Linked DNA regions of Homo sapiens. The protein of the gene in region 1 purifies or fractionates together with the protein of each later gene. This does not show direct contact. Each region holds a gene or a part of one and is shown in the gene's direction. Other genes may lie near its edges. The genes, in order: CINP, HECTD1, POTEE, BLK and NSA2.

What was found.
Region 2: the proteins of CINP (region 1) and HECTD1 purify together in Homo sapiens (co-immunoprecipitation; 3 studies listed by BioGRID and IntAct, with this or other methods). This does not show direct contact.
Region 3: the proteins of CINP (region 1) and POTEE purify together in Homo sapiens (affinity purification with mass spectrometry; 2 studies listed by BioGRID and IntAct, with this or other methods). This does not show direct contact.
Region 4: the proteins of CINP (region 1) and BLK purify together in Homo sapiens (affinity purification with mass spectrometry; one large-scale study listed by BioGRID and IntAct). This does not show direct contact.
Region 5: the proteins of CINP (region 1) and NSA2 purify together in Homo sapiens (co-immunoprecipitation; one large-scale study listed by IntAct). This does not show direct contact.

Annotation. Positions count from the first base shown.
Region 1 is NC_000014.9:102,350,321-102,352,901, reverse strand, and holds part of CINP (cyclin-dependent kinase 2-interacting protein), read left to right. Parts: intron 1-2,581. UniProt on the Homo sapiens protein: Component of the DNA replication complex, which interacts with two kinases, CDK2 and CDC7, thereby providing a functional and physical link between CDK2 and CDC7 during firing of the origins of replication.
Region 2 is NC_000014.9:31,201,273-31,204,799, reverse strand, and holds part of HECTD1 (E3 ubiquitin-protein ligase HECTD1), read left to right. Parts: intron 1-3,527. UniProt on the Homo sapiens protein: E3 ubiquitin-protein ligase which accepts ubiquitin from an E2 ubiquitin-conjugating enzyme in the form of a thioester and then directly transfers the ubiquitin to targeted substrates.
Region 3 is NC_000002.12:131,251,017-131,254,543, forward strand, and holds part of POTEE (POTE ankyrin domain family member E), read left to right. Parts: intron 1-1,509; coding exon 1,510-1,554; intron 1,555-1,901; coding exon 1,902-2,083; intron 2,084-3,527.
Region 4 is NC_000008.11:11,549,887-11,553,386, forward strand, and holds part of BLK (tyrosine-protein kinase Blk), read left to right. Parts: intron 1-272; coding exon 273-376; intron 377-2,599; exon of another isoform or gene 2,600-3,500. UniProt on the Homo sapiens protein: Non-receptor tyrosine kinase involved in B-lymphocyte development, differentiation and signaling. B-cell receptor (BCR) signaling requires a tight regulation of several protein tyrosine kinases and phosphatases, and associated coreceptors.
Region 5 is NC_000005.10:74,770,242-74,773,768, forward strand, and holds part of NSA2 (ribosome biogenesis protein NSA2 homolog), read left to right. Parts: intron 1-389; coding exon 390-569; intron 570-2,071; coding exon of another isoform or gene 2,072-2,131; exon of another isoform or gene 2,132-2,252; intron 2,253-3,527. UniProt on the Homo sapiens protein: Involved in the biogenesis of the 60S ribosomal subunit. May play a part in the quality control of pre-60S particles.

The DNA of each region.
Region 1 (2,581 bases):
CGAGGCAGGTGGATCACCTGAGGTCAAGAGTTTGAGACCAGCATGGCCAACATAGTGAAACCCCATCTCTACTAAAAATACAAAAAATTAGCTGGGGGTGGTGGCAGGTGCCTGCAATCCCAGCTACTTGGGAGGCTGAGGCGGGAGAATCACTTTCGGAGGTTGCAGTTAGCCGAGATCAAGCCACTGCACTCCAGTCTGGGCCACAGAGTGAGACTCCGTGTCAAAAAAAAGAAAAAAAGAAAAAGAAAAGTGGTTTGGGAATAAGTTCTCATTCTATGTTCAAAACCAAAAGTTGATTTTATAGGGTATTATTATTTTTCCTATTTTCCTCTATCCGTTATAGAGAATGGTTTCCAGACCTGGTCTGTGTCTTTCATAACTTTGACCTTCTGGGGGTTTCATGCACCGTTCTTCCTAAGCTGGGCTAACATTTCACTGTGGTCTGTGTTTGCTGTGGGAAGAAGCCACCGATGTTGAAATGTAAGGGCCTGCTGTTTATGCACTGTTCATTCAGGGCTGCACGTGCCTATGTGACTTGAATTCTTTATTGATGGCTGAGCTGCAGGATTGAGCATGACTTCTTGCCTGGGGTCAAGGCTCCAGAATTTTCCTTAGTCTCCTGTTATCAGCTTTTCTTAGAATCAGGTGGCACCAGGGAGCTGCTGCAGGACTCACAGGAAAGAGCAGAGGATTGGGTGTTAAAACTTGGTGTCGGCTGGGCGCGGTGGCTCACGCCTGGAATCCCAACACTTTGGGAGGCTGAGGTGGGCGGATCACAAGGTCAGGAGATCGAGACCATCCTGGCTAACACAGTGAAACCCCAGCTCTGCTAAAAGTACCAAAAAAATTAGCCAGGCACAGTGGCGGGCGCCTGTAGTCCCAGCTACTTGGGAGGCTGAGGCAGGAGAATGGCATGAACCCGGGAGGCGGAGGTTGCAGTGAGCGGAGATCGCGCCACTGCACTCCAGCCTGGGTGACAAAGCGAGACTCTGTCTCAAAAAAAACAAAAACAAAAACAAAAACAAAAAAACTTGGTGTCAGAAGGCATGGTATCGAGTTCTGGCCTCATCCTTCCTCAGCTCAACCTTAAGCAATTTCCCAGCTGTGAAACGGAAATGACAAGTCCTGCCTCTTGGGGTTGGGCCAAATAAAATATCAAACCTTAAAAGATTTGGGAAACTACTTAAGTAAAGTCCTTTAAAAATTAACGTTAGCTGAATTTAGTGCTTGCCACTTCCAATGTAATTGGAGGGTGGTTGGAAGGACCAAGTAAAGGAATTAAGATATTTGACAATTTATATATCTTTTCTTATTTCCCCTTTTTCATATTTATGTATGTAAAGTCAACTATACTTAGGAGTTCAAAATTTGGTCTTTATAGACCTATGCTACTTAAATCTGAAATCCTAGTTACTTCACCCATTAATTTTCTTTATCCAACCCTTATATATCTCCAAGTAGGTGCTTCACAAATACTAACTCACTTAATCCTCTTCACCAAGCTGTGAAAGTAAGCCCGCCATTGCCCCTATTCTGTGCTGCCTGGTGTGTGCAGTGGGGTTGGTTTAGTGTCTCCCACAAGTAGCCATACACATCATGCAGTTACAGGGCTTAGGACAGAGCCTGGTCCACACTGAGGGACCGTCAATGGCAGCTTGCCACGTTTCCTTCCTTTCTGCGTGAAGTGTGTAGGGCTCCCTTTCTGTGTTGCCATTTTATAAACAAGGAAGTCAAGGAGGTTTCCGTAAATAAAGGCAGTTAATAAGAGAGAGTCAGGCCTGGTGCGGTGTCTCATGCCTAGAATCCCAGCACTTTGGGCGGCCGAGGTGGGCGGATCACGAGTTCAGGAGATCAAGACCAGCCTGGCCAACATGGTGAAACCCCGTCTCTACTAAAAATACACAAATTAGCTGGGCGTGGTGGCACATGCCTGCAATCCCAGCTACTTGGGAGGCTGAGGCAGGAGAATCGCTTGAACCAGGGAATCAGAGGTTGTAGTGAACCGAGATCTCGCCACTGCACTCCAGCCTGGCACTGCACTCCAGCTTGGCAACAGAGCAAGACTCCGTCTCAAAAAAAAAAAAAAAAAAGAGAGAGAGAGAGAACATCAGAAACGAGCTCATTTGATAGAGAGACAGAGAGCCTCAGAAACGAGCTCATTTGATAAAAGAGAGAGAGAGAGAGCATCAGAAACGAGCTCATTTGATGCCTTTCTCTCTCACTTCTTAAAAGCAGCAAGAGCCAGCCAGGCGCGGTGGCGCATGCCTGTATAATCCCAGCACTTTGGGAGGCTGAGGCGGGAGGATTGCTGGAGCCCAGGAGTTAGAGACCAGCCTGGGCAACATAACGAGACCCTGTCTCCACAAATTAAAAAAAATTAGCTGGGTGTGGTGGTGCACACCTGTGATCCCAGCTACTTGGGAGGCTGAGGTGCCAGCGGTTGAGGCTGCATAAGGCATGATCATGCCACACAGAATGAGACCCTGTCGCAAAAAAAAAAAGAAAAAAAAAAAAAGGCAGCAAGAGCCTGCCTTGGGATTCCTCCAGGTCTTTGGGTCTAAGACATTAATGCTGTTTG
Region 2 (3,527 bases), about 71 Mb from region 1:
AATCCTTACTAATAAAATTTCCAAATTACAATTAGTTAGTGGTCCATTTATTTCCATTAGTTTTTGTCATTGGCAGAATTTTGAGTATGTAAGAATAACTTAGCCCTTAGTTGACACTTGTTTTAGCAGGATTTATAGTAAAGTAGATTTTTTAAAATTTATTTTTATTTTTTATTTTTTTCCTCATCCTGACTCTCAAGTTAAAAATTGCGTTCATAGATTTCATTAGAGGTAACCTGAAAGTTACTTTTGGTATTTTAAAAATCATACTTGTCAGTCAAGTCAATTGTCATTTCGTAGCTTCTGTTTAGTACTAATATGTAGTAGAAGTATTTGTTATGACATTTAAAAAAGTGTTGCCCGATCATTAAAAAGTCAGGAAACAACAGGTGCTGGAGAGGATGTGGAGAAATAGGAACACTTTTACACTGTTGGTGGGACTGACTGTAAACTAGTTCAACCATTGTGGAAAACAGTGTGGCGATTCCTCAAGGATCTAGAACTAGAAATACCGTTTGACCCAGCAATCCCATTACTGGGTATATACCCAAAGGATTATAATAATCATGCTGCTATAAAGACACATGCACACGTATGTTTATTGTGTCACTATTCACAATAGCAAAGACTTGGAACCAACCCAAATGTCGATCGATGATAGACTGGATTAAGCAAACGTGGCACATATACACCATGGAATACTATGCAGCCATAAAAAATGATGAGTTCATGTCCTTTGTAGGGACATGGATGGAGCTGGAAACCATCATTCTCAGCAAGCTATCGCAAGGACAAAACACCAAATGCATGTTCTCACTCATAGGTGGGAATTGAACAATGAGAACACTTGGACACAGGAAGGGGAACATCACACACCGGGGGCTGTTGTGGGGTAGGGGGAGGGGGGAGGGATAGCATTAGGAGATATACCTAATGTAAATGACAAGTTAATGGGTGCAGCACACCAATATGGCACATGTATACATATGTAACAAACCTGCACGTTGAGCACATGTACCCTAAAACTTAAAGTATAATAAAAAAAAAAAGTGTTGCCATGTTAAAACAATTTAAATGAAATTTTTAAAACATAAAATTTATCTCTATGTAAAATCCTTCCATCCTAACATAACAGCTGTTATTTTTTCCATTTTCCTTTCTAGGCTTTATTCATATATAGTATGATGTAATTTTTAAGAGACTGGGGCCTCACTATGTTGCCCAGTCTGGCCTCGAGCTCCTGGGTTCAAGCGATTCTCCTGCCTCGGCCTCTTCAGTAGCTGGGACTATAGGCTGTGCCACCACACCTGGCTTTATAATGTAATTTTAAGGAAATGAACCTAAAGTTAAGTCAGATATGATTTACTATATGAAGATACAAGAGTATTTCAAGTTGAAGGGGTTAGCCGTGTTTGGGGTAGTGTACCAGTAACCTCCAAAAACTAGACATTTGGTTTAATTTTGTGACTGTTTTGTTTTTAAACATTAGTTTGCTTTTCATTCTATAGCCAGATTTTCTTGTTGTTACAAGGGAAAATTGTCCTGGTTCCTTCTTGAAACTAGTGAGGGAGGCATAGTGAGATGGAAAGAATGGGCTGTGGCATCAGAGACTTGGGTTCAGATTCTTGGTCTGTTGTGTTCATTAGCCTCTGAGAGCCTTACTTTCTTCCCCTGTAAAATGGCAGTAGTCTTTTTTTCTTTTCTGTTTTTTCATATGAAGTCTTGCTCTGTTGCCCAGGCTGGAGTGCAGTGGTGCGATCTTGGTTCACTGCAACCTCCGCCTCCCAGGTTCAAGTGATTCTCCTGCTTCAGCCTCCCGAGTAGCTGGGACAACAGGTGCGTGCCACCATACCTGGCTAATTTTTGTATTTTTAGTAGAGATGGGGTTTCACCATGTTGACCAGGATGGTCTCCATCTCTTGATCTCCTGATCCACCTGCCTTAGCCTCCCAAAGTGCTGGGGTTACAGGTGTGAGCCACCATGCCCAGCCAGTAGTCTTTTTTCCAGTGGGCCTTCTTGTGAGGATTAAAGGAGAGAATGTATGTTAAGTGTTTTGAGTAAAGTGGGCTACCCACTGATGCCATCATTAATAAATATCTAATTTTGAATTTTATTTTAGCACTTTATTCCATGAATAAAGTGATTGATTTGGAAAGGTCTTTTAAAATTCTTTTAAACAATCAACTCCCAGCAGGCAAAAAAAGCAAGATGATGTGCATATTTTGAATATTGGTAAAAATCTTTCATACTACCTTGATTTCATAAAGTAGTAGCAAATAGGACTTAGTTCTGTCTAATAAACCAAAACATGCCTGTATGTCCTGATAATATGTTTGCTTAATTAGCTTGTCTTAATAGTTTCACATCTGTTTAGTCAGGAAAGGCAGGTGGTGTGGTAGAAACAGTGGCCTCTGCAATGGGATAGACTTGGGTTCAGATACCTGCCTTTTCCACTGAATAGTTGTGTGATAGCCTTTGAAGTCTGTTTCCTCATCCTTGCAGGATTTTTCTGAAAATAAATGGGATAATAGTCAAGGATTTCTTTTTCCTTTAACTTAGTATTGTACATGGCTCTCCACTTTTTTTTTTTTTTTTTTTTGAGGCAGAGTCTCGCTCTGTCACCCAGGCTGGAGCGCAGTGCTATTTTAGCCATGCCCAGCTAATTTTTGTATTTTTAGTAGAAACGAGGTTTCACTGTGTTAGCCAGGATGGTCTCAATCTCCTGACCTTGTGATCCACCCATCTCAGCCTCCCAAAGTGCCGGAATTACAGGCGTGAGCCACCGCGCCCGGCCGGCTCTCCACTGTTTGTACCCATTTTGACAGTGTCTTTCTGAAGTTCAACGAATATAACTTCTTCTATGATGTGTCAGTGCTTCTTATTAATGCCTGAACTTATCAAGGTAATGCTCCAGAAAGTAAAACACGTTCAAGATTCGTTTTTGCTTTTACCTGATGTATCGAGTTCTAAAATGTAGTAATGTAAACATGGCCGGGTGCGGTGGCTCATGCCTGTAATCCCAGCACTTTGGGAGGCTGAAGTGGGCAGATCACTTGAGGTCAGGAGTTCAAGACCAGCCTGGCAAACATGGTGAAACCCCATCTCAACTAAAAATACAAAATTTAGCTGAGCACTGTGGCATGTGCCTGTAATCCCAGCTACTTGGGAGGCTGAGGCAGGAGAATCTCTTGAACCTGGGAGCCGGAGGTTGCAGTGAACCAAGATTGTGCCATTGCACTCCAGCCTCGGTGACAGAGTGAGACCGTGCCTCCAAAAAAAAAAAAAAAAGTAAGTAATAGTAATATGAGTTATTAGCTAATGAGCATTTTGTATTCACATCAAAATAGGTGATCATCATATGTATTAATGTTATAAATATGTATTATGGGCATTTCTAGATCTTGCTACTAAATCTGAATATAATTTGAAAGTTATGTCCTCTGGAAATTGAGCATCTCAGAAGATGCTTTTAGGTGCTAGTAGGCTTTATTTAAAAAATAATGATGTCACTTAATTTTGAGGGCAC
Region 3 (3,527 bases), on another chromosome or scaffold:
GCACTTTGAGAGGCTGAGGCAGGTGGATCACGAGGTCTGGAGATCGAGACCATCCTGGCTAACATGGTGAAACCCCGTCTCTAGTAAAAATACAAAAACTTAGCTGGGCGTGGTGGTGGGTGCCTGTAGTCCCAGCTACTCGGGAGGCTGAGGCAGGAGAATGGCATGAACCCAGGAGAGGGAGCTTGCAGTGAGCCGACATCCACCACTACACTCCAGCCTGGGTGACAGAGCGAGACTCCATGTGAAAAAAAAAAAAAAAAATTTTAATAGATTCTTAAAATTTATTGTAATAAAATCAGCAACCTTATTAACAGAAGAATCAATAGATTCTAATTTAATATTTGATATTTAACTTCAACATAACCCACTATAAAATTTAAAATACTCTTATTTTAAAATATTCTTATCTGCCTTCTTGATTAGCTTATAGCTAATCTCTCCTTTTGGAATAGAGGCAAAAACAAATTTCAGAACTTTGTTTGTTCTTTTATTTTTACAACACCCTAACATGATAAAGAAAGTAACATCAATGATTGAATCATATTATTAAGCAATAGGAATTATGAACAATGTAACACTGATTCCCTGAGCTGGATTCATGGTTAAAGAGTAATCATGGCCTGTGATTGAAAATCCACAGTTTTATATTGTCAGTCACTGATACCAAGGTTAAGGACATATCCTGCCTTGTGGTCTCTCGTTGACCTCAGTGTTTCTGTTCAGGGAGGGAACCAGGTCATAAAAGCAACCCAACTGCCTATTACAAGAACCATATCTTGCAGAATGGGACCTTTGGTGTTAGTGCACAAACACAATAACATTCTAATTTATTTCAGTTGCAGAAAATCAGTAGAGATTAAAAAATTTTATCTGCTGTCATTAGTACACATTAGAATATATTAGAACTGGACTTACGCAGATAATCTGGATACATAACACTATCATATGACAGTATATAATTTCAATTAAAATGTGAGAATTTGCATTTCTTTCTGTTTGGTGTTGATTTCGGCTCCTAATAGTTTAAAGGGTGCCTACAATCCAGTTAGGAATCTTTTAAAAAAGCACTTCAGTGCACTGTAGGTGCTCACTAGTTAGGGTTTCATGAGGTAAACTCTTTTCAAGTGAGGAAGATTTTGGAACACTACAAATCATCTGCTGATTCATTTTTGGTAGATTTAACACATAACAAATTAAATTTAGTCCAAACAAATAGTGAGAAAGTTAAGTTTGCTGGTTCATGTTTTTCTTCTCCCTTTGTCTAAGGTGAATTATTTTTCACATGTTAGAAGCCAGTGATGTGGCAGTAGCTAAACATAGATTAAAAAGTTAATTCTTAATTTTAATTATTATTTATTTTAACAGTTTAATTTTAATTACTTTCTAATTTTTATTGTCCATACTTGATTACTTCAGAATAAAATTATTTTAAAAACATGCACTCCAAAAGAGGAAATGTCACAGAAATACAGCAAGCAAATTAACCTTCTGTTTTTACATCTGCAGAAAAGATCTCAAGAACCAGAAATAAATAAGGATGGTGATAGAGAGGTATACCTTTATATTCAAACGTTTGTGTTGAATTAGATTTTTACATTATGTTGTTTAACAAAGTGTAGTAAATGTAGGCATACATGATCCTATCATGTAAGTAGCATAAATCATCAGTGAAAAATTAAATAGTTAACTCAGAATTCTGTACATTGAATTTTGAAGAGGTGCAAACCCTAGAGCTATTCTTTCATTATTATGGAATAATCCCGAATGGTGCCATAAAATGCTAGGTAATGCCACTTTAGGAGCTTTAGACCAATTATTTTATCTTTCTTGGTTTTAGTCTGATTATCAATAGATAATGTGCCTAAAGTAGATAATTTCTTATTCTCTGTATTTTCCAGCTAGAAAATTTTATGGCTATCGAAGAAATGAAGAAGCACGGAAGTACTCATGTCGGATTCCCAGAAAACCTGACTAATGGTGCCACTGCTGGCAATGGTGATGATGGATTAATTCCTCCAAGGAAGAGCAGAACACCTGAAAGCCAGCAATTTCCTGACACTGAGAATGAAGAGTATCACAGGTAAGCCTATGGCAACATTGAACAGGAGGTAACTTTGTGCTGCCAAACTAATCCTAATTTGAGCTAATATTCATGATGAACAAATTTTATACTTTTATTAGGATATTGAGCCTTGCCTGTTAATCAGAAAAATGAAAATCAGCAAACAATCAGTTACCGTTTTTTTTCCAGTCATTAATTTATTTGAAAAATAACCAGTATTGGCAAATGTGAGGGAAAAGGCATTTTCTTCTCTTTTCAGTGAACTTTTATTTTAGCTTCGGGGTACGTGTGCAGGTTTATTATATAGGTAAACTGTATCATGGAGGCTTGGGGTACAGATTATTTCACCAGCCACATAGTAAACAAAATACTCGAAAGGTAGTTTTTTGGTCGTCTCCCTCCTGCCATGCTCCTCCCTCAAGTAGGCCCCAGTGTATGTTATTCTCCTCTTTGTGTCCATGAGTTCTCATGTTTAGTTCCCGCTAATGAGTAAGAATATGTGGCATTTGATTTTCTGTTCCTGCATGAGTTTTCTTAGGATAATGGCCTCCAGCTCCATCCGTGTTGCTGCAGGGGAAATGGTTTCATTGAAAAAGACATTTCATATACTGTTGGTAAATACATTTTGAACATTAATTGAGTAGCATATTCACACACACATATATAACAGTAAGCATATATAATACATGTAAAGGATATTTGTATAGATATGTTATATGTATACTTATGTATAAGGACATTTATTATAGTATTATGTAAAAAATTTGGAGCTAGTCTAATTCCTTATCAATAGGAAATAGCTCAATTTCCATATCCCCAAAATAATGTATTATGCAACCATTTTTAAAAAATGAGGTTAGATGTAGGGTATACTGATTATTTCACAATTAAAATGTATTTAAAGCGTTTAGTTTGATGACACATCTTAAGAGTTCTTGTTAAAATTCTTGTAATATCTGCTGTGTTGCAAATGGAAGCTACATGCTACATTGACACTGTACCTTGTTAGCAACAAGATTGCTAGTTACTAAATTTTTGTTGTCAGTGCCTGAGTGCTGAAATATTGGACCCTCAATCTGAATATTGCCAAGCGATTGTACATGGGGATCTATATTTAATATAAACATTTCAGTATATTTGGTAAAACTTTTATTAAAATACATCAAAGAATCTTTGATCTACTAAACCAGGAGTTGGCCAGCTTTTTCTGCAAAGAGCTAGTTAGTAAATATTTTAGGCTTTGTGGACTACATATATTGATTTTCTTGAGACAGGGTCTCACTCTGTTTCCCAGGCTGGAGTGCAGTTGTGTGATCATGGCTGACTGCAGCCTCGACTTTCTGGGCTCTAGTGATCCTCTGACCTCAGTCTCTACTAGCTGAGACCACGGGTGTGCAACATCACACCCAGCTAACTGACACTATGGACTGTAAAGTGAATAAGCATGGCTGTGTTCCAAGAT
Region 4 (3,500 bases), on another chromosome or scaffold:
AAGCAAAATTAACAAAGGTCAACCAACTAGTGTTCTTGTTTCGTTCTAGGAAAACAGTGAGTCCAGGGCTGACAGGAAGCGGAACTGGAAGGGCAGCGGGGCAGAGGGCACTGACTCCATCACGGTGTGAGGAGCAGCAGCTCAGGGCCGACTGGGACCAGAAATGCTAGATTTTTATTTCTTGGGGACAGGCAGTGCAGGAGGGAGGCTGTGTGGGAATACTCCGAGGAGCAGGGTCGCTCTGAGTTTCACCTGTTCCTGCCGTTTTCCAGGTGGTTCTTTAGATCACAGGGTCGGAAGGAGGCTGAGAGGCAGCTTCTTGCTCCAATCAACAAGGCCGGCTCCTTTCTTATCAGAGAGAGTGAAACCAACAAAGGTAGGCTTGGTGGCTTTGCCTGCCTTCCTTGCCCTGCTCCTCCCGGGAAGGCGCCTCCAGAGGCCTGGCCCTGGAGTGAGAGGGGAAGGGGTGACTGCCAGGAGAACCAGCAGCTTCCGGGCTTGTGTCCCTCCCAATTCAGGCCCTGCCCGGGAGTTGACATGGGGGCTGTCCACACAGTCCTCCCTGTCCCGGCTGGAAACCACCTGGGCACAGGAAGCCGGGTGGACAGGGGTGGTCCCACGCCAGACTGGCCCTGCTGCCCAGTCAGCAGGAACACCGAGGCCAGTGGGGGCCAGGGAAGGGGGAACCCTGAGCCCTTAACCACCAGCCTCTTTGGAATCAAGGATTAGGGGGAGCTCAAAGAATCCTTCAAGATCATCTCAGCCAGAGGCTGCAGGTAGCATATGTTAGGAAGTGGCCTGTGCCGTGATGTAAGAGAAGAGGGTGGTAATTGAGGGGAGCCCATGCCAGTCTAGACACTCATGAGTTCAAATCCACTGACTGAGCAAAACAGCTGCCATCACCCTCAGGGGTTTTCTCTCTTTCTCTGTCATTTGGCTTTCTTTCCTTCTTAATTTTTTTGGTGTAAAATATAAAACACATATAAAGCTTGCATGAAGTATGAATGTGTAATTCTAAATCATATAGGGTAATAATAAACAAATCCCTGTGTAATGACAGCCAAGAGAAAGAGCATCCCAGACCACCAGGAGCCCCCTCACTCCCCCACTTGGGCTCCTTCCTGATTCAACCCCCACCCTCAAGAGCTACCTGCTGTCCTGACTTGGATGGAAATCCTTCCTTGCTCTTCTCTGTGGTTTCGCCACCATGTCTTGTCTGTTTTTTCAGCTTGATGTAGATAGAATCACTGTTTTTGTTTCTGTGTGTCTTGCTTCTGTCACTCAGCAGTGTTTGTGGGATTCTATGTTAGTTTCCTGGGCTGCCGTAACAAAGTGGCACAGACTGGGTGGCTTCCACCACAGAAGCTTATTATCTCACAGCTCTGGAGGCTGGAAGTCCACGACCAAAGTGTCAGCAGCGTTGGCTCCTCCCGGGAGCTCTCTCCTTGGCTTGCCGATGGCCGTCTTCTCTGTGTCCTCACGTGGCCGTCCCTCCATGCATGTCTGTGTCCTAATCTCTTCTTGTAAGGACACCTGTCAATTTGGATTAGGGCCCACCCATATGACCTCATTTTAACTTAATCACCCCTTTAAAGGCTCTGTCTCCACATATAGCCACATTCTCAGGACCGAGGGTTAGGACTTTAACATATGAATTGGGAGCGCACATGATTCAACCAGTAACAGATTCATTCATGTGGTTGAGGATGGTGAGCCTGTTCATGTTCATTGCTATACAGAATCCCGGGTGTGACCATTCCAGAGTCAAGTTAGCCATTCTCATGTTGTGGGCATTGAGTTGTTTCCAGTTTGGGGCTGTTAATGCATGTGTTGCACCGAACCCTATTATGGTCCCTGGTGCTCACTGGCCACTAGCTTTTCGTCTGTAAGATACTAATCCACTTGACAGATGAGGAAAGGGAGTCCCTGAAACAGGAAGTGACTTGCTGGGGGCCAACAGTAAGCATCAGAGCCCAAAGCACCAGTGACCACATCATCTAAGAGGCTGAGAGGCTTCCCAAGCTCTACAACGTGGCAAGCTAGGGTGACCCAGGGGCTTCCCAGGCAGTATGAAGAATGCTTTGCTCATCAGGAAGCTGTCCACAGGGACCAGGTACAGCCTTGTAGCCAATTTTAACTGGAGAGGAGATGGTGACAGTGACATCAGAGGAGGAAAGGGAGAGAGAGTGTCTGGAATATGAGTCTGGTTCCCTGTGGTTGGGGCGATGAGAATGGACAGAGTTGTCACCTGGTGGGAGCACCCTTGGGCTGTCCATTGGTTCCATCTGTGGCTCAAGAACAGCAGCCAGAGTGGAAACCCAGAGTATGAAAAGCTGTCATAGCACCCTGTGATTCTCTGGGGACATCATGAGGCCTTGGTGCCCCACAAAGGGGCAGGACCAGGTTGGGGAGCAGGAAGGGTGCATTGGAAAGCTGGGGTGCTCTGTGCAGGATTTCTTGGAATATGCCAATGAATGCATATACATACATATACATACACATAGATATATGCATTTTATATTTATATTCATATTGGATATTGTCACTATTTCATTTTTGTGGCAGAGCACCTCTGTACAAGAAATAATTTGGGAATCACTGGAGATGACATAAGTGTTTTATTGTTGTTCCAGGACATTTCAAACATACACAGAAGTAGAGAAAATAGTTTAGTGGAACCCCTGGTACCCAACAGCCAGCTTCAACAATTATCAACTGAGCCAGTCTTGTTTCATCTGTATCTCCCGCTCCACCCCTGTTCTTTCGAAGTAAATCCCAAACATCATGTCATGTCACCCTGGAAATGATATTTCAACCATTGCCTATTGCTAAGGTGAAAGCCTCCCCACCCCCTGCCCAATCTGGTGTGGAGGAAGAAGGGGTTCTCTATGAGTCTGGCATCTTTTCCTGTCCATGTCCACCCCAGGAAGCCAGTCCAAGCTGGGAATAGGCCATATGGGACCAGGGCTGCAGGACTGTTCAACCATCATCACCACCACACGCACATACACATGCACACATGAACACACATGCACATATGCACAAATGCACACATATACACACATGTGCATACACAGGCATGTGTGCACACATACACATGCAAACACATACACATGTCCACGCATGCACATATACACACACACGCACACATATACATGTGCACATATGCACAGATGCAATGAACACGTGTGCAACACATGTACACACCTTACACGTACATATGCACACACACACACAACTCCAAAGCAAGACCCCTCTGCTTCTCCGAGCCACAGCAGTGAATGCAAGACAGGGATGGAAGCAGGGGAGTGAGTTCTACCCTTCGTGGCCTCCGGGGTGTCCTTGAGCCTCTCAAGCCTCAGTTTACTGGTGTCTATGTGAGGATAGACTAGTTTCACAGCTCAAAGGCAGGCGGTCCTTCAGTGCTGAGAAATCTTCATCTCAGAGCCAGGCCCTGCCTGCCCAGGGCAGTCCAGACATACCACAGAGGCAGGGGATCC
Region 5 (3,527 bases), on another chromosome or scaffold:
AATTGCTTGTACCCAGGAGGCGGAGGCTGCACAGTGAGCCAAGATTGTACCACTGCACTCCAGCCTGAGCAACAGAGCGAGACTCCATCTAAAAAAAAAAAAAAAAAAAACCACCACATTACAGGTGGTATTTTCTCACCCATAACACAGCATTAAGATTTTTAGCTTAAGCCAACCATTTATTTAACATACCCATGATATATAAACTTGTTCTGTTTAATTTGCAGCTTATGAGACAATACAGACCTCTAGAAGACGGTTGAGCCAAAAATGTGTTGATGGTCAAGCAAAAAAAATAGATCTATTACTTTGTACAACTAAAACATATTTGACTTATTCTCATTGTCCTTTAATAACAATATAAACTTTTAACTGTGGCATATTTTTAGGGAAAATGGGAAGTCCCTCTGCCTAAAGTACGTGCCCAGGGAGAAACAGAAGTATTAAAAGTTATTCGAACAGGAAAGAGAAAGAAGAAGGCATGGAAGAGAATGGTTACTAAAGTGTGCTTTGTTGGAGATGGCTTTACAAGAAAACCACCTAAATATGAAAGATTCATCAGGCCAATGGTAAGTCCTTGGAAGAGTGTAATGACCGAAATGTTAGTTGACTTTATTAAATCGGATAAAGAACATTATCATTTCCTGAAATTCTTTAAATTGATGTGGAACAGGTTGAAAGATATTTTTATGCAATTTTTGTTATTTTATTGACAGAAGTTATTTAGTACTTTTTCCACTAGTCAAAAATCTTTAGCCCAGTGCGGTGGCTCACACCTGTAATCCCAGCACTTTGGGAGGTTGAGGTGGGTGGATCACCTGAAGTTAGGAGTTCAAGACCAGCCTGGCCAATGTAGTGAAACCCTATCTGTACTAAAAAATACAAAAAATAAGCTGGGCGTGGTGGCGGGCGCCTGTAATCCCAGCTACTAGGGAGGCTGAGGCAGGAGAATCGCTTGAACCTGGGAGGCGGAGGTTGCAGTGAGCTGAGATCACGCCATTGCACTCCAGCCTGGGCAAGAAGAGCAAAAATCCGTCTCAAAAAAAAAAAAAATCTTTTCAGCTTCGTGAGAGATTTGAAAAAGTAGTATCATAAGACATTGTCAGTGAATTCTGACTTTTAAACATGACATATTAGAATCTTCATTTTCCACAGTCATATTTTCCTCATTAAACTAGTGATCTACAATATGCCTGATATTGTCTAGGTCTCAAAACACTTCTTGTCTTTGACAGCAGTTCGAAAACTTGAGTAGGACTGTTTTATAAGAGTCAATTCCAGTTTGATAAGGAAAGTATCTAAATGCTTTTGAAAATCATTGAAAAGCCGGGCGCGGTGGCTCACGCCTGTAATCCCAGCACTTTGGGAGGCCGATGCAGGCAGATCACGAGGTCAGGTGATCAAGACCATCCTGGCTAACACTGTGAAACCCCATCTCTACTAAAAAAAAAAAATACAAGAAATTAGCCGGGCATGGTGGCGGGCGCCTGTAGTCCCAGCTGCCTGGGAGGCTGAGGCAGGAGAATGGCGTGAATCTGGGAGGCAGAGCTTGCAGTGAGTGGAGATCATGCCACTGCACTCCAGCCTGGGGGACAGAGCAAGATTCTGTCTCAAAAAAAAAAAAAAAAGAAAAAAAGAAAAAGAAAATCTTTGAAAAAAGGAAGATAATTTAATATAGCTTAATTTCTGTTGAAGGCAGCAATAGTAATGTGACCCCAAACTTCCCCACCCCTGGGGAGAAACATAGTTGAAGATATATTTTTGCAAAATCCCTTCAAAGAGACTGAACTATTCTCCCAGTTAGATACACAGCCTCAAAAAAACAAAGTATCAGAGAGAGGAAAGTTGCAACATGCCATAATCCTAGTGTTCAACCTGAGTAATTTTTTTTTTTTTTTTTTGGGACGGAGTCTCCCTCTGTATCCCAGGCGGGAGTGCAGTGGCACGATCTCGGCTCACTGCAAGCTCCGCCTCCCGGGTTCTCGCCATTCTCCTGCCTCAGCCTCCCGAGTAGCTGGGACTATAGGTGCCCGCTACCACGCCCGGCTAATTTTTTTGTATTTTTTTGTAGAGACGGGGTTTCACCGTGTTAGCCAGGATGGTCTCGATCTCCGTGATCCGCCCGCCTTAGCCTCCCAAAGTGTTGGAATTACAGGCATGAGCCACCGTGCCCGGCCAACGTGAGTAATTTTTAATAGATTAAAATATTGGCAAATAGCCTGTTTCTGTAAATAAAATTTTAATGGAACACAGTCATGCCTGTTCATTTACATATTGCATAACCCCTACCCCTAGAATTGAGCAGTTGCAACAGAGGCCATATGGCCTGACAAAGCCTAAAGTGTTTACCTATTGGGTTCTTTACACAAAATGTTTGCCCACCCCGGATTATATCATGGACTCGACTTGTTTTGGTTTCATATTCATAGTCTGAATATATTTTGGTAGCCTTAACAGTTCTACAGGGAGAGAATATACAAGTCAGGCTATTCTAGGTTTTCTGTAGTTTCACAGATTTGTCATTATAATCAGATGGCATCCTGAATGGTGTCAGTTTCTTACAAGCTTGATTAATGAGTCTGTTACTAAGAAACTGATTTAGTGATTTTTTCCCCCCATCCCCATGCACACAAAAATGAAGACTGCAAAATGTTGTGACGTTTAAAGTACTACACCCTAAAAGACCTTATTAGGTGACTGGGTGACTCCATAACCAGTTTCTGTAACAAAGACTCCTCTGGGTCTCCTCCAGTCTCATATTGCCATCAACCTAAAGAAAGCTGACAGTCCACTCCTTTTTTCATCATGGAAGGTAGCCGAGTTATATAAAGACTTGGAATCAGGATATTAAGGTTTGAGTCTGTTTACCACTCACCATTTAATCTGGAAACAAGTCATTTAACCTGCTGATCCTTGTTACATCATTTGAAAACAGAGGAGAGGGGATGTGTTTGTTGTGAGGTTATTGTGTTTAAGTGAGCCAGTTGTGAGCTAGCATAGTGGCCTGGTATATATAAAGTCCTTAGTAAGTCTAAGTGTAGATGACTAGACAGTAAAAATCTGGGTATGTTGCTAGGTAGCTATTACAGGGTGAAAAAAAAAAAAACTTTTCAGAGGCTAGCTGTGGTGGCCTGTAATCCCAGCACTTTGGGAGGCTGAGGTGGGTGGATACGTTGAGAGCCCAGGAGTCCAAGACCAGCAGGCAACATGGCGAAACCCCATCTCTACCAAAAAAAAAAAAAAAAAAAATAAGCTAGGCATGGTGGTGCGTGCCTGTAGTCCCAGCTACTCAGGAGCCTGAGGTGGGAGGATGTCTTGAGCCCAAGAAGTCCAAGCTGCAGTGAGCCAAGATCACGCCACTGCACTCTGGCGTGGGCAACTGGGCAAGACCCTGTCTCAAAAGAAAAAGAAATTCTTAAGTATTTGTGTGGGTGTTTTCCCCACATATTTATACTGTAACCATCAGCTTTTTACTCTGTAAAACATATTTTGTTAGCTTCTTTAAGATGACATTATTCAACCATAGT